4 linked regions of the Homo sapiens genome follow. The protein of the gene in region 2 interacts with the protein of the main gene of each other region in a pairwise test. Each region holds a gene or a part of one and is shown on either strand. Other genes may lie near its edges. The genes, in order: WDR6, GRIP1, DEPDC1B and GRIPAP1.

The links.
Region 1: the proteins of GRIP1 (region 2) and WDR6 interact in binary tests that used the Homo sapiens proteins (3 or more experiments, as listed by UniProt).
Region 3: the proteins of GRIP1 (region 2) and DEPDC1B interact in a two-hybrid assay, tested with the Homo sapiens proteins (one study listed by BioGRID).
Region 4: the proteins of GRIP1 (region 2) and GRIPAP1 interact in a two-hybrid assay, tested with the Homo sapiens proteins (one study listed by BioGRID).

What each region holds. Positions count from the first base shown.
Region 1 is NC_000003.12:49,010,381-49,016,470, reverse strand, and holds the end of WDR6 (tRNA (34-2'-O)-methyltransferase regulator WDR6), read right to left. Parts: intron 5,051-6,090; exon of another isoform or gene 4,859-5,050; coding exon of another isoform or gene 4,837-4,858; coding exon 2,355-4,836; intron 2,262-2,354; coding exon 2,178-2,261; intron 2,089-2,177; coding exon 1,972-2,088; intron 1,894-1,971; coding exon of another isoform or gene 1,872-1,893; coding exon 1,753-1,871; intron 1,647-1,752; coding exon 1,183-1,646; 3' UTR 884-1,182; downstream 1-883. Other genes in the region: DALRD3 (DALR anticodon-binding domain-containing protein 3), read left to right, coding at 1-42, 131-313, 385-498, 599-883. UniProt on the Homo sapiens protein: Together with methyltransferase FTSJ1, methylates the 2'-O-ribose of nucleotides at position 34 of the tRNA anticodon loop of substrate tRNAs. Required for the correct positioning of the substrate tRNA for methylation.
Region 2 is NC_000012.12:66,669,075-66,676,103, forward strand, and holds part of GRIP1 (glutamate receptor-interacting protein 1), read right to left. Parts: intron 1-7,029. UniProt on the Homo sapiens protein: May play a role as a localized scaffold for the assembly of a multiprotein signaling complex and as mediator of the trafficking of its binding partners at specific subcellular location in neurons.
Region 3 is NC_000005.10:60,599,147-60,606,175, reverse strand, and holds part of DEPDC1B (DEP domain-containing protein 1B), read left to right. Parts: intron 1-319; coding exon 320-486; intron 487-2,608; coding exon 2,609-2,785; intron 2,786-6,915; coding exon 6,916-7,029.
Region 4 is NC_000023.11:48,985,243-48,992,271, forward strand, and holds part of GRIPAP1 (GRIP1-associated protein 1), read right to left. Parts: intron 5,869-7,029; coding exon 5,684-5,868; intron 5,491-5,683; coding exon 5,443-5,490; intron 4,762-5,442; coding exon 4,730-4,761; intron 4,641-4,729; coding exon 4,593-4,640; intron 4,469-4,592; coding exon 4,369-4,468; intron 2,957-4,368; coding exon 2,879-2,956; intron 2,636-2,878; coding exon 2,543-2,635; intron 161-2,542; coding exon 26-160; intron 1-25. UniProt on the Homo sapiens protein: Regulates the endosomal recycling back to the neuronal plasma membrane, possibly by connecting early and late recycling endosomal domains and promoting segregation of recycling endosomes from early endosomal membranes.

The sequences.
Region 1 (6,090 bases), on a different chromosome or scaffold from region 2:
ACCATCAAGTTTGAGATGCTGAGCACAGCCCCACAGAGTCAGGTGAGCCTGGGAGCCTGACAGGGCCAGTGTTGGGGCACAGGGTGTGGTGGCTGCCTTCTCTCTCTGCAGCTGTGCTTCTATTCCCCAGCTCTTCCTGGCTCTGGCTGACAGCAGTATCTCCACGAAGGGCACAAAGAGTGGCACCTTTGTCATGTATAATTGTGCCCGTCTTGCCACACTCTTTGAGAGTTACAAGTGTAGTATGGAACAAGGTCTGTACCCCACTTTTCCTCCTGTGAGCAGTCTGGACTTCTCACTGCTACATGATGAGGTGAGTGTCCCTCCTGGTAGCTGGCACAAGGAGGCCTGGACTTCCCCTCCCAGCACCTTTCTCCCCAACAGGGTGAGTGGTTGTTGCTCTTCAACAGTATCCTCCCCTTTCCGGATCTGCTGAGCCGGACAGCAGTGCTGGACTGCACAGCCCCGGGGCTCCACATTGCTGTACGCACAGAGATGGTGAGGCATAGACAACCAGGACACTCTACACTCTATTCTTTATTCTGGCCTGGGGCACAAGAGCAAAGAGATGGGCCAGTGACTCAGTCTCTGTCTCTAGATATGCAAGTTCCTGGTACAGCTCAGCATGGATTTCAGCTCCTACTACAACCGGGTACACATCCTGGGGGTGAGCACACAGCAAAATGGGGTGGGACGTGCAGAGAGGTATAGGGTAAAGGCAAAGGAAGCAGAGGATGAGACCAGCAGGCCCTTTCTCTTTCAGGAGCCTCGACCACACCTCTTTGGTCAGATGTTCGTCCGCCTGCAGCTTCTGAGAGCTGTGCGTGAGGTGCTCCATACTGGCCTGGCTATGCTGGGTCTCCCTCCACTGAGCCACATTTAAGGCCACAGAGGCTCCAATACCTGGGAATGTTCACAAAGTCATCAACTGGAAAAAAAGCAAAAACCCACGGCCAAAATAAATTGGTACTGTTTGTTACAAAGTTCTGTCTTGTCATGGGGAGTCGGGCATATTCTTGGCAGCACTCCACTCACCTTCAGCTCCTGCACCGACATCAGGAACCCACGGCCACCACCTCCTCCCCTCAAGGCATGCTGAGCATGGGCACAGACAGCCCATCCCTGCTCCATGCTGTCTGTGAGCAGGCCCCATGCCCAGCACGCCAGCCACCGCAGGATACCTCAGTCATACCAGTTGTAAACCTCAAGCCCCTGACCCCCAAGGGCACAACGGTGGCCAAACTCAGGGCTCACAGGCCAGCAGTCCATGTCAGCCACATCAGGCACATGGAACACAGTGCTATTCATGAAGGTGGGTTCACCATGCCCCAGACGCCAGAAGGTCAGCCGTTGATCAATGGAGGCTGAGACCATGATGCTTGGGCTTAGGATCTTGAGGCCTGTCACATGGGCAGCATGTGCACAGGGGACAGAGTATTCCTCTAGCACACGCAGCTGGGGTACCAGCCCAGCCTCTCCCACAGCCTCTTCTAGCTGTAGCATCTCCACAGCAAGCACGAAGACATGGAGGGATCCATCTTCACTGCCACTGGCCACGAGATGGTGGCCCTCACGGGTGGGCAAGGTGTGCAGGCTGTTGATACCACAGCTGTGGGCCTGGAGAGTCAGGGAGGGGGTGCCAAGCCCTGAAGGAAGAGGAAGAGGGTAGTTGTCAGGGCCCCGCCTGCCACATGTGTGAGGGCTATGTGACAGGTGAGGAGGGGTAGCCATGGTTGCACATTAGCTACTCACGGTAGGGAAGCCCAGGATCCACTGGAGGCTCCAGGACAGTGGAGTCATGGTCTAGCATGGTGGTGAGATCCCAGAAAGCCAGGCTGCCATCAGTAGCTGCGCTGCACAGGAGGAGCCTCCTGAGAGCCAGGAAAAGACAGCCTGGTCAATAACAGAGATGAAGCTCAACAGGAACCCCCCAACCCAGCCCATGCAGGACCATCATCCAGCCCCTCTCACCGCCTCTGGTTGGGTGCCTCGTGTGTAAAGGAGTGGACCTTGAGGACACATCGCTTATGGTGGAAGGTTTCAGCAAGGAGCTGCAGAATCCGCCCAGAATCCTGCAAAAGAAAGAGCCTGGGGGGCGGGGGGTGGCCCAGCTCAGAACGCATCCTAGACAACCTTACTTCCTTTGTCTCCTGTCCCACTGGGCCCTATGCTCTCACCTTACGGCCCCATCACTACAGGCTGCAGCCACAAGGGGGCCAAGGCCGGGCTGGTCAAGTTCACACACAGCAAGGGACATGTACCTGCAGAGACAACATGCAGCTGTCAGGTGGAGCCTGCAAGCCTGGGAGCATCTGCATGACCCATACCACACCCTGCCCAGGAGCATATATTACCTGGTCTCTGGGTCTACCTTAACCATCCGATGCCGATTGCGTTGCCGGTCCCAATACTCATCTAGCCGGTGGGACGAAAGGTGCATGACATGGCAGGCGAGGCGGCTTGGGGTGCTGGGGTCCGGAGTAACCATGATGCTGAAGCAGTGCATCTCAGCCCGCCCCCCCGCAGACACCACATGGGCAGTCAGGCCTGGCTGAGGATCCTGAGGGCCACCTGGGGTGCCAATGCCCCACACAGCCACAGCACGTACCGAGGAGATATGGTTACAAACAGCTGTGAGTGCGTGGGCTGAGCCTGTGGTTGTAGGGAGTGCTAGGACACAGACAGTAGTGTCCTCACTACATGTGATCACAATGTCAGTCAAGTCGGGCCCCTCACTGCCAGGCTCCAGGTCATCAGGCTGCATGAAGCTGGGCACTCCATATTCAGGCCCCAGGGTAATGGTGCCCACACGCTTTACACAAGTGATCTCACGGCCATGCAGACCCTCCCGGAGAATCACGTGTGGCCGGGTGCAGCCACCCAGAGCCCTGTACAGCATGACATCCCCATCCTTGAGGTAAGCAAAGGCCATGGCCGCCTCAGTATCAGAGAATGCCCACGAACGGTGCCCTCCACCACAGTTGACGATGTGCAGCTTCTCGTGTGACCGAGGGTTCCACACCACAAACTCATTGGCATGGAAACCCAGGATAACCATGCTCCCATCGGGCACTATACGGAGCCCAGCTAGCCAGTTCATGCCTCGACAGGACTTCTGCCTTAGGACTGGCTGGAGCTGGCCGTCTCGTACAAACAGCTGGTAGTAGGCTCCATCACGCCCTGTGGTATACACATAGCCACCATGGCATGTGACTGAGGTCACACCCTGCTTCCCGTGCAGAGAGGGCAGGGTAGACACTGGGCCCAACCCAGTGAAAGCATTCCCACCCCCACTACTACCACTACCCACTACAGGTGCCCCAGCACCAGCCCGAGCCTTGCCTCCCACCCCAGGGTCCTTGAGCAGACCTGGTCTGGAGGGGAATAGCAGCACAGAGCCCCGGCGGTCACCACACACCAGGAAGTCACCTGGGGGTAGGAAGGCACTGCATGTGTGCCATCTCTGCTTGCTTGGGGGCAGCAGGTACCGACAACGTTCCTTGACAAAGATGGCCTTGCCAGAGGGTGCGGCTGAGATCTCTAGGCAAGCTACTACCCCGCCAGGGCCCGATGCCAGCAACAGGAGCTCCTCATAACCACGCAGGGCCCAGCTCAAGCTGTGCACCTTCCCAGGAAACAGGGTCTGGTCCACAGCAGCAGTTGGAGTGTTGATGGGGACAACCTTGACACGACCTTCCCCATTGGCCATAGCACACAATCCGAAGCCCTCGGGACCAGGAGCTGCCTCCAGCAGGCAGTAGGACTGGAAATGTTTATCCTCTAGCAGCTGCTCCCAGCACTTGACCTCGACGTCATAGAGATACAGGGCCCCTGTATCAGTCACTGCCAGCAGTCGCCAAGAGCCAGCCAGAGTCACAGCCTTGAGTGTACCTGGCCTACTACGGGACTTGAAGCAGAGAGCCGAGACCCCCAATCCCCGGTACCCACGCCCTACCAAGTGCCACAGCCGAATGCCTGAGTCATCACCCCCAGTGATCACCCAGGCCTGCCTCTCATGGGCAGCTATGGCCCGGATCCCACGTCCCTGGTGTCCCCGAAAGGCCTGGAGGATCTCACCTTCATGGCTCCACACCAAGCAGACACAATCCTCTCCTGCACTGATAAGGTAATTCTCTAGAAGCTTGACCTGCCACACACGGGCGCTGTGCCCAAAGCAGTGCCCAATATTCTGCACCCGACCCCCAGGCACTCGCAGGTCGCCCACCTTCCAGATACGAACGCTTCGGTCTTCTGAAGCTGTAGCCAGCAATCCCTTGCTTTCCAGGTATGACATGCTGAAGATGATGCCCACATGCCCACTGATTCGTCGGTCAGGTGCTACAGGTTTGTTGTCTGCTAAGGCAGTTGCTGGGTACCAGACCAAGAGCTGGTTGGAAACAGCACCTGCCACTATGGTCAGCTCCTTCCAGGCGTCTCCAATCAGGCAGGCTGAAGAGAGGGTGCACCTGTCTGTGCAGGGCACCTCTTGCAGGATGCACCCTACTACAGGGTCATATAGCACCACTGAGTTGTGGCCCAGGGCCAAGGCTATATTTCCCTCAAGCCAGCGTGCATCCCAAATCCAGTCAGACATGTTCCACAGGCCAGAGCGCCAAAGCTCCCAGAAGTGGCCCTGTCCCCAGCTAATTTTCACAACTCGGAGTCCCTTGCTTCCAAACACAGCCACCATGGCCTCCAAGTCAAGGTCTCCATTAGGCTCTGGCCGTACCCGGAAGCCATGGATAAGATAGTGGCCAAGCAGGTTCTGCACTCGCTTTATCATCCGCAGATGCCCACCAAAGTCCAAGCTGTACACCAGGACATCGGGACCCTCACCTAGATAGAGGCAAAGAGCCATGTCAGAGCTAGGTACCTAACTCTGATGACCCACAGGGAAGAGATGGGGATCAGGGAAACTTCTCGGCATGTAGCCTATGAATGCATCAGGACACACAATCCTGCAGCTTGAATCTTAGAAAATCCTTGGTCTCGGCCGGGTGCGGTGGCTCACGCCTGTAATCTGGGCACTTTGGAAAGCCAAAGCCAGACTCTGTCTCAAAAGAAAAAAAAAAAAAAGAAAATCCTTGGTCTCGGCCAGGCACGGTGGCTCACGCCTGTAATCCTAGCACTTTGGGAAGCCCAGGCGGATGAATCACCTGAGGTCAGGGGTTCAGGACTAGCCTGGCCAACAAGGTGAAAACCCCATCTCTACTAAAAAATTAGCCAGGTGTGGTGGCACGTGCCTGTAATCCCAGCTACTCAGGAGGCTGAGGCAGGAGAATCGCTTGAACCCAGCGGGTGGAGGTTGCAGTGAGCCAAGATCATACCACTTCACTCCAGCCTGGGCGAAAGACTCAAAAAAAAAAAAAGAAAAAAGAAAATCCTTGGTCTCAGCTTCAGCTGGACTTTCAGTGCTGACTTTGTGCTTCCCTCATCAGTCATTCTTTTTTTTTTTGAGACAGAGTCTCATTCTGTCGCTGAGGCTGGAGTGCAGTGGCACCGTGCAGCTCACTGCAACCTCCATCTCCTGGGTTCAAGCAACTCTCCTGCCTCAGCCTCCCAAGTAGCTGGAATTACAGGCGCCCACCACCACACCTGGCTAGTTTTTTTTTTTTTTTTTTGAGACGGAGTCTTGCTCTGTAGCCCAGGCTGGAGTGCAGTGGCACGATCTCAGCTCACTGCAAGTTCCACCTCCCGGGTTCAGGCCATTCTCCTGCCTCAGCCTCCCGAGTAGCTGGGACTACAGGGGCCTGCCCCCATGCCCGGCTAATTTTTTGTATTTTTAATAGAGACAGGGTTTCACCGTGTTAGCCAGGATGATCTCGATCTCCTGACCTCGTGATCTGCCCGCCTCAGCCTCCCAAAGTGCTGGGATTATAGGCGTGAGCCACCAAGCCCGACCAGTTTTTATATTTTTAGTAGAGACAGGGTTTCACCATGTTGGCCACGCTGGTCTCGAACTCCTGACCTGCGGTGATCCACCCACCTTGGCCTCCCAAAGTGCCGGGATTACAGGCGTGAGCCATTGTGCCCGGCCCCCTCATCAGTCACTCTTTTTTTTTTTTGAGACAAAGTCTCACTCTGCCGCCC
Region 2 (7,029 bases):
AAAACAAATGTGTGGGATTGGTTAAGCCCGGAGATCTTTAAAAATTGACATCATTTGGCCAGGCATGGTGGCTCACACCTGTAATCCCAGCACTTTGGGAGGCCAAGGTGGGCAGATCACTTGGGGTCAGGAGTTTGAGACCAGCCGGGCCAAAATACAACAAATTAGCCAGGTGTGGTGATGGGTGCCTGTAATCCCAGCTACTCGGGAGGCTGAGGCAAGAGAATCACTTGAACCCAGGAGGCGGAGGCTGCAGTGAGCTGAGATCGTGCCACTGCACTGCAGCCTGGGTGACAGAGTGAGACTCTGTCTCAATAAATAAATAAATAAATAAATAAATATTAACATTATCCATTCGACAGATACTTATTGGGCATTTTCTTTGTACCAAATACTTTGTACTTGCCAGTGACATAATGGTAAGTAAAGCATGGATACTAATTTTCAAGGAATTCATAGTCTGATGGTTGTATACAGATAAACAAAGAATTATCATCAAATGTAGAAAGCATAATGAAAGCCATCTATACAGGTTTATGAATACACAGAGCAGGAGTACCTATTCAGTGGTGTGCTGGTAAATGTTTAACAAGTGGCTTTGTCGGGGCATGCCTTGATTTATAGCATCCATCAATGTCTCTGGTGTAAATACTCCCACTATGGCCAATTTCAGTCTACCAACTTGATGTCATTGAATGTGGAGTTGCTAAGAGATGTGTGGCACACCATTATAGAGTAGCTCTCCCACATAGATAGAGTAGACTTCAAGAGCACAGAACATAAAATGTAGTAATGATTAGAAAATGATGAATTGTTAGTATTCATTACCTCCGTTTTTAATATCATTTAATTGCAAATTTATATAATTTTAAATGATTGTGTTTACAAGCTAGTTCAAAAAATTCTTTAACATTTAACAATTGGCTCCATAGAAGATGACTTTAACCAATGAAGTCTACTCTTCATTGTGGGCTAGGGCAACAGACTTTCTGCACCATACAAATGAGGGTGAACTCCTTTGCATGAGTAGCTATGTCCATTAGCATTGAAAGAAGACAAGTAACAGAAGAGAAGAGGGAGCAATGAGAAGAGCTGAGATGCTCAGAACATTGCACCGCATACAACCAAAGCAGAAAACTTTATAACCCTGCCTTTCAACTATTTTCTCCATATAATAACCTTCCGCATAAGGGGAGAAGAAAGGGAGAGATCAGTTAGCCCTTAGGTCCCTAAATAGTAAGGACAAAAAATCACATGAAAATTACAATATTCATTTCCATCCCCATGGAACATTCCTTCCAGTCTATGCTGATGTGGACTGCCAAGGAGGGCAGACTTGAAGACTTAACAAAATGATCCACTGGAAATCCTACGTTAGCAGTGGCGCTCATAACTTCATACAGGACTGCAGGCTCAGATTTGCAGGGGTGTTCACACAGTTCTGTGGAATGAGAGCAACTCAGGAGTGGACTCAGCAAATGGTTGAGTCAACTGTCATTTTTAAACTATGTCTTCAAAACTCTCACCAAAATGTATACACACAAATGCGTTATAACCTGTATCAGGCCTCTTTTGATTGCAAATAACAGAAAGACCTGGCTCTAATGGGCTTAGGTGTTAAAGACATTTAATGGCTAACTTAACTGAAGAAGTCTAAGGGAGAGCTCAGAGCTCCCTTAAGGTAGTTCTTGAGCAGGGGCTGAAGTGATGACAGTCAGATATGGTGTCTCTTTCTTTTGGATCCACTGCCATTTTCAGACAGGCTCTGCCCTCAAAGTCACAGGAAGGCTATAGCAGTTTCATAGCCCTTATATCTGCTCAGCTTCTCCCTTCTAGCAGCTGAGTAAAATTCCTGGGCTTGTCTCTGGCTGAAACATATCTAGTAGCATCTCTATGAAGCTGCCAGTACGTTAGGTCCATGGCTCCCAAACTCAGCTAACACAGTAAAGTCACCTGGGGAATGTGTTAAAATGCCAAAGAACAGGCCACACTTCCAGGCAATTAAATCACAATCTCTGGGGTTGGATCCAGGCAACATTATTTTCTTAAGGTTACAAGGTAATTCCAATGGAGAGAAAAATTTAGAAACCCCTGAATTGGGTGCTCATAAAAATAGGAGATTTTAGACTCATCTTCTGATTTACTAAGAAAGTCAAGTTTGATTAATTTCCTTAATGTCCACCTCAAAGTCTTTCTTCCTATGCTTTCCTGTCTCTGTGACAAGAGTGTCCCTCTTGCTCACTCTAGCTGGCTGCCATCTGTCTCGTGGTCTCACACTCACACTGTCTTGCCTGGTTCTAGAGTTCATCCCTCTTCTAGTTTGCATCTTGAAATTTTACCTCCCTACTGGTTCTATCCTTTTAAAAAATGCTCAGATTTCTCCCATCCTATAATAGCCTTCCTTATCCCCCATGACCCCGCCCTCCACCCCCACAGGCTGCTGCCCATCTACAGCCTAACTTTCACCTTCAGACTTCTTAAAAGAGTGGTCTGCCCTTGTTGCCTTTAATGCAGAGAATCCTTATAATCTGGTTTGGACATCAATACCCTGTGAAAACTGTTCTCTCAAAGGTCAGCAATGACCCACTTACAAAACAGAAGGGCTGCTTCTCGCCTCTCCTTCTCTCATCTTTGCTTTGGTTTTTAGATATTACGGTATCCAAACGCTATTTCTCCCACTGTTTTTCTCTCTGCCACCTCTATTAGCTTAAGAAAGCCTTGGGGAAAATGTGTGGGACGTGTATCCTAAACACATTTCTCAGACAATATGTATCAGAAGACTTGAAAGTGAAGATACATGAAGGCAACAATTTAAAGCACAAAATAAATTCTTTAAAGACAATTCAGTATCATGTATTAGACTGAAAACTGGGAAACAAACTAAAGATATATTATCCACATAAGGAAATACTACAGAGACAGTAACAGTTTCCTATGACAAGTGTGTGCTAATGTGCACAAATGGGCAGAATATTAGGAAGAAGATGTAAGACAAAACATGTATTATACATATAATTTCAACTTATTAAAAAGCATAATAATTTGTAAATCAATTTGTTTTCCTCCATTGGTTTCCATTATTATGATGACAACATATCTTTAGTGATATTTAGTTTTACCTTTTCTCCTAATTCATCTGTTTTGAAAATGAATAGAAATTTCCTTAGTACAAATGTAACTTATTGTATTCTTCATATATTCAGCTATTTAATAATGTAGTTGGAATTATTAGTAAGAAGCTCTTTCTCACTTTCTAATACCCCGAGCTTTGCCTGAATTTAGGTGGTCATCATTGACTGAGACATCCAAGACCACTGCTTTTATTGCTTTTTGTAATGGCAAGGTCAAAGTTTCCTTGGTTTGAAGGGTGCAGTAACATCCTTTAAGGAGCTACATGTAATAAATATCTGGGTGCATTTTTTTTTTGGATATATGCGATACTGAAACAAATAATTATTTTAAAAATCTGCAAATAAGATTTTCTTCTGTATATTTAATAAAGCAGCAGTTACTAATTTTAAATTTAACATAATTCTCATGTATATGGGCAAAAAAGTGGTAAGAAACTAAAAGAGAGAAAAAGATGAGTTTCAAACACTGACGGCTTGCCTATCCCTAGAAACTATGTATTTTGCCTCCTCTCAAATAGTGGGAAGTTATCAAATTATATATTTTCCGCCAGAATAAAGTGAATTTACTAATATAAGAATTTCAAATAAATCAACTGTAGTAGAAAATTAAATCATTTTGTTATAGCTAACATGAGTATAAAACAGTTTTCACAAGTAATTTTTAATTTACAGATTAAGAAACTGAAATTTAGTGGGGGAAATTCAGTTTTTTTGTTTGTTTGTTTTTGCCACACAAGTAAAAATAGGAAAGCTAGGAAAGGTTGACATATCTTCTAATTTCTAAGTCTATTCTATTTCCCCTACCATAAGGAATGCTGAGAGATTAGTGTGGTGTTGTCTTGATTAATTTCTCTTTATTATTCTAGATAGGCAGGTCTATGGTTTCTATCCGTTTCTAGAAGAGAAAAAAAATGGCAAAAATGAAACACTGGGGTTCCTCCTGTCCTCCACTTGTGATCTTAGGAATGATTCTTAACTTCTCTGAACCTCTTCTTTTTCATCTGTATGGTGGGGATAATGACGATAATATTGCAAGATTTAAATGAGTTAGTACATGTAAAATGTTTAGAATAGTACCTGGCAGAAAGTAAGTGCTCAATAAATGTTAGCTATCCTTATTTCCATTCTTCCTCCTAAACATTTCCCAAAAGTATATAAGTTAATCGATTAGAATGCCTATCCTACATTGGCCCTCCTTTTCCCAGTAATGAACCAGATATTTCTTCCTAACCTGCTACAATCATATAAGAAGGGTGTAGACTCCTTCTTGTTTATATGGGGTCATACAAGGCATAGCCAAAATTTCCTCTGGAGGATGGGTACCTCCTGGAACGAGGTAAAGTATTTCTAGCATCCAATTCCCATTTGGAAGACAGGGGAGAAATAAATGCGCCATTATGATAATTCTAACTAGTTATATAAACGAAAAGCTTCAGTCCAGTGGAGAGTAAAGCGGTCCAAGCCACTGTTCAATGTAAACTCCCTCAAAGCATGGGCTAGAAGCACAGCAAGAAATCCATCACAATCTGGACCACGAGCAGCACTTGCGCGAGAACAAGACCTGCCTGGGACCCAGCTGCAGCATTCTCCTGTTCAAGTGGGGTCTCTCTATTTGCAAGAGAAATATGCCCCATGCCCTAGCAATAGATGAAACTCCAATAAAACAAGACAGACTTACTTTGTGAAATATCTATTAAGTGCATATTATTTTAAAAAGTTGATAGGCTAGAAAGATAAATACGTTAAATGCACTAGCTTTGATGGCATGAAATGAAGGGGTGGAGGCAAAGCAGAAAGGACATGGTTGCAGGTGAGATTTGGAAAGGGGTGGAAAGTTAACGAGGTGGAGGATACAGTTAAGTTGTTCCAGATGGCAGGATCTGACAGAGAAGGCCAGCGAGGGTTAGCAGAATGGATGAGGATGGGGAGACAGGAGAAATGAGGTCCAGCACAGAGAGAGAGAGCATTCTCAACCCAGATGATGATCAGTTCTGAATCATATCACAGAGTGGATGAGGAATCATTAGAGAAGACTGCTGAAGGAACCACAAGGCTAGACACAGACAGATGGGAAAGAGCAAAGTGACCAGAACAGAAAATCCAAGGCCACCAGCAAAGGAGCCATCAGGTTTGGAACACTGATACTGAACTCTGTGATGGATTCAGAATTCCTTGGATTAAAAGATTCTGCAGATGAGAAAAGATGGGAAATATTTTTCCTCTTCCATTAAGACAAAACATTTAAATGTGTTTCTTTAATTAAGATTACACTTAGGAAATGAGTTTCTAAATAGAAGAACTTTTAAACACAGGATGAGTGTCAGAGTTTAAAGGGATTTAGACGTCACCTGAGTAATCCATTAAAAGTTTATCAGACAAACTGTGAGATTGTTCTTGTCAGAGAGAATTGAGAATAAGATTACTGGTTGTCTGAGATGGTTGAGTTTCAGTTCTCTCTGGAAACAAGTCCTAGACGAATGTCTGACCTTCCCTTTCAAGCATAATGATTCCATGATTGGGGTAAGTGTAAGGAACAATGACTGAAAAAATGAGAGTGAGTGTGATCACAACCCAGCCTTTTAATCTTGCTCAGTGCCAGTGGAGAGAGCAATACCCATACATGCCCAGACAGCAGAAAAGGAGAAAAGATACTGAGGTTGGGAGGAGAAATCAGGAAGAAGAGAGGGAGAGAGAAAGAAAGTAGAATGCACAGCAGGGAGCAGTTCCCTGCCAGCCACAGATGTCTCACTTAGACACCCCATTGGGATGAAGGTCAACGGGGCTGCTTATAGTTTGTTAGTGGGAAAGGGACAGGGAGAGTTAATTCTATTTTAGGCCATATGTGTATTTGGGAAGAGAGAGAAAGTGAAGATAAGTAGAAAATAAAATGACACGTAGGCCAGCTATGATGAAAAATGTTGAAGTCTATACTAAAGTGAAGGCAAAGGTTTCCGACATGAGCTTTGAGCCAGTAGAGAAAAGACAGAGAGAGAGGGTGGGTGGCAGCAAAACAATGAAAGGTGCCCAGAGCCGTGCTCCCTGTGGAATGTCAGTAAATATTAATTGGCTGATGTTGGCATTGGTAGGCAGAGTGAAGCTTGTGAAAGAAAAATGCCATTGCCAGTGGAGCACGAAAGTTCAGATCTCGGAGCTCAAAATGGCAGCACCTGAGCAAGCAGCAGAGTCACATCCCATATCACCAGAGAAAGTGATTCTCTGCATATGAGGCCAAACTGTCTCAAGGAAAAGTAATCACACAATCATGACAAGAGAAAAAGAACAAAGTCTGTGGGAGCCATGAAAATATCTCCCCTTCTCTGAGAACATACTCCCTTCCCCTGAGGTATGGTAGCCCCTAGCTGAGAAACCAGGGCTGTCCCAGGTAAACAGCTGTGAAGGTAGGTGCCAAGAAGCCTAGATTTACCCACTCCAGAAAACCCTTTTGTCAGATGTCTCTGGAAACCTCACAAAATGTTATTTTGGGATTTGGCTCTAAGGTTGGGTAATTGGTAGACTCTCATTCTGGAGGAAGAAAAGAACGGCATTGCTTCTTTAGATTTCAATATTAGATGGGAAACGGAATGCTTTTGACGGTGCTTGGTGTTTTCATGAACCAAAGTTCCTCTCATAATGGCAGGCATGGGCCTTTTGGGTAAAGGTTATTTTCTTGCTCTTGTTCTACATTGGTAGGTACCTGATAAGGCAAAATGATTGAAACAGTGGCTTGAAACATTAATAAGAAAATGACTCAATTCCCAAGTCAGAGAAGTGCTAAGTTTACCTGAAATATATTCTACTATAATACTGTGGATCAGTGTCTATGTGGAGTGATCCAAGGACTTGTCTAGAAATACATGTTTTATACATCTTTTAAAATTACATCTGACCTAAAGAAAAA
Region 3 (7,029 bases), on a different chromosome or scaffold from region 2:
TGAGGGTTATGATAGTGTTAGCCTGGCTGCTCCTGGTTCGGGAAAGAGTGCTATGAAAATTGAGATATATCTGTCTAGTGTATGGGAGGAGAAAATGGCTGTATTTGGTTCTATATATTTGTCATGCCTGGTTGATGGTTTGTATTTTCTATAGTGATTTGTGAGTGACAATGGATCTATATTCAATTGACCCAGTATAGTTGAATATGTGAAAATATTTTATGTAATTTTACTAATATATATTTTGTTAAAATACAACCATATAGAATCTACTAGGCTATAGGTGTTGAAAGATAACATTTTTTTTTTTCTAAATCAGGTTTGTTACAGAAGGAGAAAGTGGCAGTTGAAGCATTTCAGATTTGCTGCCTTCTCCTACCTCCTGAAAATAGGAGAAAGTTACAGCTATTGATGAGGATGATGGCAAGGATTTGCTTAAACAAAGAGATGCCACCCCTGTGTGATGGCTTTGGTACCCGAACACTGGTAGGTTGATTTTTAACATCAGGTATGACTTTTTGGAATGAAAGTCGACTGAGTAAGGTGTATTAGTTTGGGTGATCAGAGGGAAGTACAAAGCAGACTTGCTTAAAAGAGCCACAGTCAGTGTCCACCCAGACTTGTGTCGTGCTTTTGTTCTAAGTGTCTTAAAGAACATAATGAGAAATGGAGACTTGAGTAGGGGCAGACTCTGTAGAGAGATCTGCTACATCCTGTTCTCCCACTTAAAATTATTTTAAATTTATTCTTAATTGACAACTAATAATTGCATATGTGATGTTTTAATTCATGTATACATTATAGAGTCAATCAAGCTAATTAACAGATTCATTACCATACCAACTTATCATTTTTTTGTAATGAGATCATTAAAAATCTATTCTTTTCTCAATTTTGAAATATACAATATATTATTATAATTGTCGTCACCGTGCTGTGCACTAGAGCATTAAGACTTGATCCTCCTGTCTCACTGGATCTTTGTACCCTTTGACCAACATCTATTTCCATGTCCCTGTATCCCCCAGCCTGTGGTACCTACCATCTAATCTCTGCTTCTATTGGCATATGTTTTTAAAGAGAGTTTATTTTAGAATTTACTTACTAGCAAAATCTCTTGATTTTCCTCAAAAAATGTCTTTGAGCAAAACTGGTGCTTCAGTGGAATGTATGTGCTTTCCATATCCTGTTAAAACACCGTGTACTCCCTGGGGATTCACTGGCCCAGTTTTAGAAGTAATAGAGTGAGATCAGAGGAGCACTTAGTGCCCAGTAGGATTCTTGATCTCTATATTTTTTTGGAGTGAGTGGATGGTTAGAGAGGCTAATAGACCTTTTTGAAAAGCTGAAGAAAACTTTATATCTATTCTGCATATAAAATACACATGCAAAACTTTGCATGCAGTTTCAAGGCGATCACAGAGTCCCTGGGGTCCATGGTCTCCAGGCAAAAAATTCTCTGCCTGTGTGTCTCTCTGTACATGTAAATGTAAGTGAAGATCATTTGCAGTGTGTTAATGAAGTGTTACTAAGCAGAATTACATGATTTTTTGCTTAAAGATTTTGAAGGAAGATTGTCAGCGATAAAAGTAGTAGGAAAAAACAAAACAAAACAAAAGCCAGTCCAAAGAACAGTATTAAGAATGGAGTAGTTAGGCTGGGCGTGGTGGCTCACTCCTGTAATCCCAGCACTTTGGGAGGCCGAGGCAGGTGGATCACCTGAGGTCAGGAGTTCTAGACCAGCCTGACCAACATGGTGAAACCCCGTCTCTATTAAAATTACAAAAATTAGCTGGGCATGGTGGCAGGCGCCTGTAATCCCAGCTACTCGGGAGGCTGGGGCAGGAGAATTGCTTGAACCTGGGAGGCGGAGGTTACAGTGAGCCAAGATCACACCATTGCACTCCAGCATAGGTTACAGAGCGAGACTCCGTAAAAAAAAAAAAAAAAAAAAAAAGAATAGTTAATTTCAATTCTATGGAAATTATTACATTGATGCTATAATATATTTTGCATTTCTGCTTGCCTCAAAGAGAGTCTCATCACTTAATGTACTTCTTGAAAAGTCCCATGGCTTTGTTCAAAGATGATTGTCAAATATACATCGAAAATCCTAGAGAAAATAAGCTAACTAGGAAAAGATGTAATGGTTGAGGCATGTGGACTGTGTTAGCGGTTTAAAACAAATCAATAATGAAATTAGGATAAATAATAATTGACTAAATGGCTATAAAGTGCTTTGAACTTAGTAGTGCTACATGATTCAAGTCATGGTGATAATGATTTTCAAAATTTGTTTTCATATATTTATATGTGTGTATGTGTGTGTATATATATATATATATATATGTATATTTAAAATCGTGTAAAAGGAGGTTTAAAAATTGCTCAGATAAGCATCTCTCTGCAGTCTCTTAACAGGAAGATGCACATTTTGTTTGTTCTGGTTGTTGAGACCGTCAACCCATCTGAGATGGCTGGGTACTCTTGGTAGAATATGCACCCTGTGCCTTAGACCATTTCTCATATTTGCCTTTTGCAAATTAGATTGCACTCAGTTCAGAAAAATACTCATCTGCGTTTACCCCCCACCCCGCTCTTTTTTTAGATGGTTCAGACATTTTCCCGTTGCATCTTGTGTTCCAAGGATGAAGTGGACTTGGATGAGTTATTAGCTGCTAGATTGGTAACGTTTCTGATGGACAATTACCAGGAAATTCTGAAAGTCCCTTTGGCCTTGCAGACCTCTATAGAGGAGCGTGTGGCTCATCTACGAAGAGTCCAGGTAAAGGAGAGGATATTATCAGTTCTATGAAATTGGCAATATAAAGTCACGTAAGCTTGCTAGGCTTCTTGGGGCATTTTATTATGAGGATTAAGTGAATTAATGTTTATAAAGTACTTACAACAGGTCTTGGCACATAGTAATCCCCTGCATGTGTTTGTATTATCATTGAAAAGTTTACAGAATGCACATTTGGTTTTGTGTATCAATCCATGTGGCATATTTTTTATTGCTAATTCCTTGAATGAGTTTGTTTAGAATCTACATACACCTACTGATGGAAATGATTTTATGTGCAGTAAGTGTCTTGATTCATAATTGCCCTGTGACCTAGTTTAATATTCCCACTTTTTGCATGAAAAAGCTAAGGCACAAAGAACTTAAATAACTTCGCTTAAGGCCACAGAGCCAGAATTCTGACTGTTGCAGTCAGCCTCTGTAATCAGTGCTCTAAACTATCATTCCATATTGCCTGTCTAAAAATCATAGTACAGTAGAAGAACACTGGCATGAGAGCCATGAATCCCTGGCCAAATTCCTAGCTGTATCCTTTCTGTCGTGTGACTCTGGGCAAGTCCCTTAACCGCTTTGGATTTTACTTTCTTTCCTCAGGCGTTAAAATGGGCTATTCTTTCTTTATAAAGTTGTGAAGATTAGAACACTGTACTTTACAATTCCTAGGATGAATTTCTGACATATGTCAGGTATTCTTTGAAAGGTAGCTGCTGCTGTTGTCATGGTGGTTATATAAAAACAATGCAAAAGAAATATAATATATTATTATCGTGTGGACCCCAAAGTGGGGTTTGTATGTCAGCCTGTGGGAGCAGAAACCTGGTAAAGGCAGGCAGAAGGTCCACTTGACTCCTTCTGACTGATTGGACCTCTTCTCATTTGAGATCTTTTTGAGGCACCACAATCAAGGACCAGTGAACTGCCTCCTTCTGAGGTATTACAAAAATAATTAATTGTCCAGCTGTTTCTAGAAGGCAATTTTAAAATTAAAATTTTTTCTATTTTTTTGCAATTATCAACCTAACACATTGAAGAAACTTGGGAAATATAGAAAAAACACACCAAAAAGTATCAGAGTTACACTAAAATGTTCATAGTCAGTAATATAGTCTTTCAGATTTTTTTTTCTGTGTCTGTCTGCTGTCTATGTCCATGCCTACCTTACTTTCTTCCCTCTCTCTTCCCTCCCCACCCTCCCTTCCTTCCTTCCCTCCTTCCCACCTTCCCTGCTTCCTTCTTGCCTGCCTCCCTTCCTGCCTGCCTCCCTTCCTGCCACTTACATTCTGTTAACAATGAGAAAAAAATTCCCCCATCATTAAATATTGTTGATTGGCATGAGAATGGCCAAGAGCACAGACTCAGGAGCCTTTGAATTCATGACATGCCTTTTGTTAGCTGTGTCACCTTAGGCAAATTATATAACATGTCTGTGCTTCAACATCTGTCCCAACATTTCTTTTTCTCATCTGTAAAATGGGAATAATAGTAGTTAATATTTACCTCATAGAGTTTTTCTGGGGAATTAAAACATGTGATTAAAATACATGTGGGCTTAATACATGTGAAATGCTCACAATAATGTTTATCACATTGTAAACCTACAATTAGTAGCTGCCTTTGTTGTTGGTATCATCATTATTGTTATATTATTCCATAATAATATTATTGGCAACATAGTATTCCATAATATGGATATACCATAATTTATTTAAATGATACTTTTTGGTTGGTATTTAGATTGTTTTCATGCTTTCCCCCATTTTGGAAGCAATATAGCAGTAAATATTTTTAAAGGTAGATTTTTTTTGGCTAATCTGTGATTATTTTTTAAGAATAAACTCCTAGGGGCAGCATTGCTTGGCCAAAGGCCATGAACATATTTTAAGTATCTATAGCATATTGCCAAATTTAGAATGATCATTTCAATTTACATTTCTGTCAGTGGTATAAGAGAGTGTTCATTTCTTTGCCCCTTTGCCTACTTTGGATATTATCATTAACACTTGTATATATCTTTGCCACTTGCATGGGTGAAAAGTGTAATTTTAACTGCTGTTTTAGTTTAATTTTTTCCTCTGATATTTTTATGAGCCAACCCTAAAGAAAATAAAAATGAACAGAAATACTTCACCAAGTTTCTGCAAGGAAATGTTATAGCAGTGTATTAGTCTGCTCTCATGCTGCTAATAAAGACATACCCAAGACTGGGTAATTTGTAAAGGAAAGAGGTTTCATTGACTCAGAGTTCAGCATGGCTGGGGAGGCCCCAGGAAACTTACAATCATGGCAGAAGGGGAAGCAAACACATCCTTCATGAGGCAGCAGGAGAGAGAAGCACCGAGCAAAAGGGAGAAAAGCCCCTCATAAAACCATCAGATCTCATGAGAACTCACTCACTATCATAAGAACAGCATGGGGGGAACCACCCTGTGATTCAGTTACCTCCCATCTCCCACAGCAAGGGGATTATGGGAACTACATTTCAAGATGAGATTTGGGTGAGGACACAGCCAAACAATATCAAGCAATAACTGTGTTGCCCTGTATACTTGCTAGGTTTGTGTATTCACATGCATAGCACAGGCATATATTGTAGTAACTTAGCCTTGTGAGCCCTTTGCTATTACTTGAAGTTCAGAAGGCTGAGCTATGGTGATTAATTTAACTGCAGGTAAACATGATCTTGTTAAGAGACACTGCAGTGTGCTCTGAATAAAATCAGTAGTGATTCATTTGTCCAGTTACCTTTTCTCTCTTGCAAGTACATATTAGAATTGCCAAGCACCTGTTCCATTCAGCCCTCAGAACCTATAGATCTTTGTTCTTTTGATTAGGCTCCTAAGCCTCTACACTGTATCACATTTAGGGGAGTGCTTCTCTGAAAATGCAGTGTTGCTTGGATTATTCCAGTGATTGTTTTAGGACAGTTTCAGGGCTGACCCTGGGATACATTATTAGGTAGGCAATGTTTTTGACACAAGCCTTCTATGATCCTCATCTGCAACCTTCTATTTCAAAGGACTCCAGGCTCTGAAATTAAATATTTTTAATGTATGTTCATTTATTCACAGGCCTTGGTTTCCTTTTTCCTCTTATTTCTCTCTTCTCCCTTATCCCTTCTGCAATGTCTGCACCTTTGTTGTTTTACTTGATTCTCATGGGTAAGATGTTAGGAAATGATTGTAGTACCCCTCTCTTCCTAAAAGCTTAGCTAAATGCATGCCACTACCATCCCCAAGGCATTGAGAATCACACTCTTCAGATGTGGGAATGCGCCTGGATAGTTCCAGTGGATATCCAACATTATCAATGTTTTGAATCATTTTAGTCAATGTGTTTAATTTATGCTTGAATTTCAGATCTTGTTAAAAGAGGGAATGCCGAGACCAGCTCGGTCGTGGAGACCCTAACCCAGTGGCCCTAGAGGAATTAAAGACACACACACACACACACACAAATATAGAATGTGGAGTGGGAAATCAGGGGTCTTACAGCCTTCAGAGCTGAGAGCTTTGAACAGAGATTTACCCACATATTTATTGACAGCAAGCCAGTCATAAGATTTACTAAAAGTATTCCTTATGGGAAATAAAGGGGTGGGTGAAATAAAGGGAAGAGCTCTGGCTAGTTATCTGCAGCATGAACATGTCTTTAAGGCACAGATCGCTCATGCTATTGTTTGTGGTTTAAGAATGCCTTAAGCGGTTTTCCGCCCTGGGTGGGCCAGGTGTTCCTTGCCCTCATTCCTGTAAACGGACAACCTTCCAGCATGGGCATCAAGGCCATCACGAGCATGTCACAGTGCTGCAGAGATTTTGTTTATGGCCAGTTTTGGGGCCTGTTCCCAACGAGGGCACAAGCTTTTTTTGTTATTGAAATGGCTCTTGGGTTTACAAAGGTAAAAATCCAATTTAAAACCGTGGCTTTAAATAATAATATTTTGAAGTTATGGAAATACTTTTACTTTTCAATATAGAGTTTCCCCCAATCAAATTTTGAGGACTAACATGGCATTGCTACGGTACAAGGAGATATCCTGTATTTGATCTAAACTAATTCTTATAATTTATTTGAAAATATGCTATATTCTTTCACTACTAATCCTTTTGCCTCAGATAAAATACCCAGGAGCTGATATGGATATCACTTTATCTGCTCCATCATTTTGCCGTCAAATTAGTCCAGAGGAATTTGAATATCAAAGATCATATGGCTCTCAGGAACCTCTG
Region 4 (7,029 bases), on a different chromosome or scaffold from region 2:
GACAGGCCAGAGCCAAAGGTGTTACCTGGAGCTGGGAGTTGAGGTCATCTTTCTGTCCCATAAGGTCCTCGTACTCAGCCTGCTGCTGCTGCAACTCAGCTGCCAGCCCAGTGGTCTGTTCCCGGAGCATATTCAGTTCTTGGGTCTTTGCTGTTTGGATCTGGAGAAAGTAGTGGTGATGAGAAGTAGAGTGAAAGGGACCCCAGGGGCCAGGGACAGGGTATGAGCCCCCTAGTTCCAGGGAAACAGGGAGGGAGGTGGGAAGAGAACCAGGAAGAGAGAGGAAATTTCAAACAGAAAAACAATGAAGAGAATGGGTAAATGTGGTATGTTCATACAATGGAATACCACACAACAGTAAGAGAACAGATCTGTGCTGCCACGTGGATAAACTTACATAGTGCTGCCAGAAAGAAGTCAGAGACAAAGAGCAGCTGATTCCATTTATATGAAGTTAAAGAACAAGCGAAATGAATCTTATGTTGCTAGAGATCAGAATAATGGTTACTTCTGGGGGAGTACTGACTTTGAAGGGGTAAAGGGGACCTTCTGGGGTACTAAAAGTGCTTTATACTTTGATCTGGGTGGTGGCTATGGTGGCGGGGAGAGAGAGAGAAAAAAAAGAGAGAGACGAAGAGAGGATTCACTGAGTGTACACTTAAGATTAGTACATTTCATGCACTTTACTAGAGAGAAACTAGAAACAAAGAAAAGCAGAAGCCGGGCGCGGTGGCTCATGCCTGTAATCCCAGCACTCTGGGAGGCCGAGGCGGGTGGATCATGAGGTCAGGAGTTCGAGACCAGCCTGGCCAAGATGGTGAAACCCCGTCTCTACTAAAAATACAAAAATTAGCTGGGCATGGTGGCACACGGCTGTAGTCCCAGCTATTTGGGAGGGCTGAGGCAGGAGAATCGCTTGAACCTGGGAGGCGGAGGTTGCAGTGAGCCGAGATCGTGCCATAGCACTCCAGCCTGGACAACAAGACCGAAACTCCGTCTACAAAAAAAAAAAAAAGCAGAGATAGGCCAAGCACAGTGGCTCACACCTATAATCCCAGCACTTTGGAAGGCCGAGGTGGGAAGATAGCTTGAGGCCAGAAGTTTAAGCCAGTCTGGGTAACATAGTGAGACCCTGTCTCTACAAAATAATTTTGTTTTCTCTTTTTTGAGATGGAGTCTCACTCTGTCACCCAGGCTGGGGTGCAGTGGCACAATCTCGGCTCACTATAACCTCCACCTCCCAGGTTCAAGCAATTCTCCTGCCTCAGCCTCCCGAGTAGCTGGGATTACAGGTGTGCGCCACCATGCCCAGCTATTTTTTTTTGTATTTTTAGTAGAGACGGGGTTTCACCATATTGGCCAGGCTGGTCTCGAACTCCGAACCCCAGGTGATCCGCCCGTCTCAGCCTTCCAAAGTGCTGGGATTATAGGCGTGAGCCACTGCGCCTGGCCTAATTTTTGTATTTTTAGTAGAGACAAGGTTTTGCCATGTTGGCTAGGCTGGTCTCAAACTCCTGATGTCAGGTGATCCGCCCACCTCTGCCTCCCAAAGTGCTGGGATTACAGGTGTGAGCCATCATGCCCGGCCAATAAGTTTTTTTTCGTTTTGTTTTTTGTTTTTTTGAGACAGAGTTTCACTCTTGTTGCCCAGGCTTGAGTGCAATGGCACGATCTCGGCTCACCGCACACTCCACCTCCTGGGCTCAAGCAATTCTCCCACCTCAGCCTCCCGAGTAGCTTGGATTACAGGTGCCCACCACCACACCCAGCTAATTTTGTATTTTTAGTAGAGACGGGGTTTCTCTATGTTGGTCAGGCTGGTCTCGAACTCCTGACCTCAGGTGATCCGCCCTCCTCGGCCTCCCAAAGTGCTAGGATTACAGAATTGAGCCACCATGCCCGGCTTTTTTTTTTTTTTTTTTTTTAGACGGAGTCTCGCTCTGTTGCCCAGGCTGGAGTGCAATGGCACGATCTCGGCTTACTGCAACCTCCGCCTCCTGGGTTCAAGAGATTCTCCTGTCTCAGCCTCCCGAGTAGCTGGGATTACAGGCACACACCGCCACACCCAGCTAATTTTTTGTATTTTAGTAGAGATGGGGTTTCACCGTGTTGCCCAGGCTGGTCTTGAACTGAGCTCAGGCCATCCACACATCTTTGGCCTCCCAAAGTGCTAGGATTACAGGCATGAGCCACCACGCCCTTTTTTTTTTTTTTTTTTTTTTGAGACAGAGTATTGCTCTGTCGCCCAGGCTGGAGTACAGTGGTGCGATCTCGGCTCACTGAAACCTCTGCCTCCTGGGTCCTGGTTCAAGCAATTCTCCTGCCTCAGCCTCCCCAATAAAATTTTTAAAAGTTAAAAAAAAAAAAAAGTAGGGATGGATGGCCAGAGAGAAGAGGGCTGGACGCCAACAGAAAGGAGCAACAGAAACAAAGACAGGAGAACAGCATGGGGTCCAGACCACCCTACCCTGATGTGGACCAGAAGCAGATGGAGATGGGGGAACTGGAGAGGGATCAGCAAGGGCCCCCAGGTGTTCTTTACCTGCTCCAGGGCAGCCAGGCTAGTCCTCAAGGCATTGTTCTCAGCCAAAAGCCCTTCCACTTGTTCCTGTGCATCTGCACTCTGGATGGATACCTGGCCCCACGTCCACAGCAGGTGAGAGTGGGTCCAGAACAGGGGGACAGGACCTACCCACGACCAAGAAAGAAAGGACACACACACACACACACACACACACACACACACACACACACACACACACACACACGAAGGCCTGGGGGAAGCAGGATCCCTGGGACCTTGCCTGACTATGTAGTACCCACTCAGGCTGCCCCCATCCTGAACCCCAGCTCCCTGAGCCCACGCAGTACAATATACCTGATCTTGTAGGGCCCGCAAAGCTGCTGCATGTTCCAGGCGCTCCCCCTGCCGCTGATCTCTCAGCTCTGCCAAGCTCTGTGGAGACCAGGGGAGCCCATTTTACACCTCAGCCTCTCCTGGGGTGCATATAACCGTACAGACTCTCTGTTTGACCACCCAGCAGCATGTTCTCAGCACCTGTGGGTCTCAGACTATCCAGCCAACAGCAATCTCAGGTTCACCCAGACGCCAGGTCACTACCCTCAGGGGCCTCAGACACAGTCAACCCCTCTATCCCAGCGTACAAGATCTCAGGCACGACTAGACTCCTGGCCCTAGCTGCTACGCGGTTCAAACTCACTCAGCTCCCATCCATAAGAAGTCTCATGCTCACCCAGATTCTAGCTTGGGAGCTCCAGGATTCTCAGACACAGTCAGCCCCATGGATCTCAGATGTAGTCAGCACCCAAGGATGACAGTTTCACCCAGCCTCCCAATCCCAACCACCAGGGGTTTCAGACACACTCATCTCCCACGTCCCTACTTCCCAGGTGAGATCCACCCAAACTCATAGTCCCAGATCCTAGAGGTCTCAAACTCACAACCTCCTAGTTTCCAGGTCCTGGTGAACTCTCAGACTGACCCCTTCACCTGTCACTCTGCTCCCCAGTCTCTTGGAATCTTCAGACCCAGTTAACCACCAGTTCCTGGGGGTCTCAGCTTTACCCAGACTCCCGTCTCAGACCCCATGTTCCCAGTTTCTAGGGACTTCAGAACCACAAGCCACCATATCCTCCATTCCAAGGGACCTCAGACTCACCTTTTCTAGAAGGAAACCCAGAGGCTTCAGAACCATCCAGCCCCCAGTCCTCAGGAGCCTCAGACCCACCTAAACTTCTGCTCCAGCCCCTGGAGGTCTCAGACTGACCAGCTTTTTGTTCACAGCCCTCAAGGATCTCAGGACTACCTAGCCCATATGATCCCACTTCCTAGGTGTCTTAGGCCCAAGCCAGCGCCCAGATCCTGAGGATCTCAAATGCACTCAGCCTTCAGCCCCAACTATCTCACCCTTGAAAGTTGTATATCTACCCAGCCATGTCCTCAGCCCTTGGGAGTCCCAAATTTACTGACATCCCAGCCCCTAAAGATTTCAAAGTCACCCAGCACCCAGGGAGTTCAGACTTACCCCAGTTCCTGGTCCTAGGCCCTAGTGACCACAGATTCATCCAGACTGTGGTCTCAAACCTCCAGGAGTTTCAGATTTACACAAACTTATAGCACACAGCCCCCTAAGTCCTTAGCCCCCTGAGATCTTACACTCATGAAGACTCCTATAACAATTCCTAGGGCTCTCCAATTCCCATTTTCCTAGCTCCTGGGGGGCCCCAGAACCCATTTCCAACACAGGAAATCTCAGACTCCCCAGCCAGCCTCCATGGACCTCAGACCTCTCCAGGCTCCCAGTCCTGGCCCCTACCCCAGGGATCTCAGAACCCAGTCCCCATCACCTGATTGGCAGCCTCAAGTTCCTGCTGCAGCTTCTGGGTTCGAGCCAACTGGGCTTTGTGATCAGCTTCCTTCCGTTGTTGTAATTCCTCAATCTTGTTCCTAGGAGTGATGGGGAGGGGGTGTGTTGGACATGGCTTGAGGCCCAGTCTCCTAGCTCTGCCCCTGTAATCTTCACTGGGCACTGTCCCAATTGTCCACCAATACCCGCAAATCTGGCAGTTACCTGCTGTCATTAAACAGAGTCTCCTTTTCTGTCTGCAGACGGCAAAAACTGGGCACAGAAGGACAGATGTAGATGGGTCAGTTCCGTAAGTTAATTCCCCCCTCGGCCCCCAGTACCCTTGGGAAAAAGAAATTTACCTTTCTTGTTTCTTTTTCAGTTTCTCGGAGAGCTGGGGAGAGAGGTACAGACAAGTGATAACATTGAGAATAATATAAAGACAAACCTAAAATTAATAAATATAGACACTTCTTATTAAGTCATTTTTGGAAGCCAGGATTTACTTATGTTGTCTTGTGGAATCCTCAAAATAGCCCTGACAAGTGAGTAGTACCAGTTTTACAAATGGGGAAACAGAGTCTTGGAAAGGTTAAGTAATTTGGTTGCTCAGCGGGTCAGCAACAACAATATTATCTCCACCCAGATCCTTCAGGTTCCAAAGCCCGGTATTTATGCTCCCAACATAGTGGCCAATGGCCATGTTATAGATTGGCTAGGCTGGGAGGCCTGGAAAGCAGGATATCATGACTGGGTGCCGCACCCCTGGGTCTCCAGGTCCTAAGATAAGAGCCAGGAGTCTGTAAATGCTTGCATGAATGAATGAATGAGTGAATGGGCAAAGCTGAGAGATGGATGGGATGAAACTTATCATGCACAAGATATAGTGGGACCACATTAACTCATTCCATACTGAAAGTAACTCTGAGACATAGGTGTGAGTCTCTCCATTTCACAGATGATGAAACCTAGGCTTTGATGGGGTACAATGCCCCTTCTGCCCTAGGATTGGGAATGGAATGGGAAAGAATCCAGCAGATTGGGAGCAGAATGGGAAAGAGCCAAGCAGCCGCACCTTAGCAAGTTCCTCCTGCAGCCTGGATGTTTCGGCCTGCTTTGAGCTCTGCAGGGAAGGATGAGGGATGGGAGGGTTGTTGTTAGCAAGGACAAGGAGAAGCCTTCCCCTGCCCTCCTGCCTCCCTCACCCCATCAGCCCACAAGATGGTGATGTCACAGCCATCTCCGTGGGACTATAGACAGAGGTAGAACATCTGCCCTGCCTTCTGGCATTCCAGCTCCAACAGACTCAGATTCACCTCTAAGCCTTGCAGCTGTTCCCAGAGCAATCTCTTCTCCTCTTTCTCCATTTCCCATTTCAGCTCCACCTCTGCCAACGGCATGGGGGCCAGGACGGTGGGGGCCAGGCCCCCTGGGGGATCCCCCTGGCCCTCACTGACAGCTGAGAACTTCCCGGCTTCTTTCCCATAGCGTTCCTGCAGGGCTGGTGAGTAGAACAGGGATATATGATGGATGAGGTGGTCTCTGAAGTCCCTTGCCATGCCTCGAATAGAGGGAGAACTGGCCTTCAACCCCTCAGGTGGCAGAGTCCCTGTGCCAAATGACCACATGCCTAAAAGACGAAGGTTCAGCTCTATCCATGCCTCTCACATTTTTTTCTTTTTTTTTTTGAGACAGGGACTTGCTCTGTCACCCAGGCTGGAGTGCACTGGAATGATCACAGTTCACTGCAACCTTGACCTCCTGGGCTCAAGTGATTCTCCCACCTCACTCTCCCAAGTAGCTGGGATCAGAGGTGTGTGCCATCATGCCGGGCTAATTTTTTGATTTTTTTGTAGAGACAAGGTCTCGCTACATTGCCCAGACTGGTCTTGAACTCCTGAGCTCAAGCAATCCTCCCACCTCAGCCTCCCCCAAAAATCTTTTTCCGTGGCTGGGCACGGTGGCTCACGCCTGTATCCCAGCACTTTGGGAGGCCAAGGCAGGTGGATCATGAGGTCAGGAGTTCAAGACCAGCCTGACCAATATGGTGAAACCCCGTCTCTACTAAAAATACAAAAATTAGCTGGGCGTGGTGGCGCACGCGCTTGTAATCCCAGCTACTCGTGGGGCTGAGGCAGGAGAATCGCTTGAACCCAGGAGGCAGAGGTTGCAGTGAGCCGCGATCGAGCCATTGCACTCCAGCCTGGGTGACAGAGTGAGACTCCGTCTCAAAAAAATCTTTTTCCCTAGACAGTCTTGCTCTGTTGCCCAGGCTGGTGTGCAGTGGTGCAATCATAGCTCACTGCAACCTCAAACTCCTGGGCTCAAGCGATCCTCCCAAGTAGCTGGGACTACAAGTGCACACCATGCCCAGTTAATTTTATTTTATTATTTATTTATTTGTTTATTTTCTTGAGACTGAGTCTTTCTCTGTCACCCAGGCTGGAGTACAGTGGTGTGATCTCGGCTCACTGCAACCTCTGCCTCCCAGGTTCAAGTGATTCTCCTGCCTCAGCCTCCCAAGTAGCTGGAATTACAGGCATTTGCCATCAAACCTGGCTAATTATTGTATTTTTAATAGAAATGGGGTTTTGCCATGTTGGCCAGGCTGGTCTTGAACTCCTGACCTCAGGCGATCTGCCCACCTTGGCCTCCCAAAGTG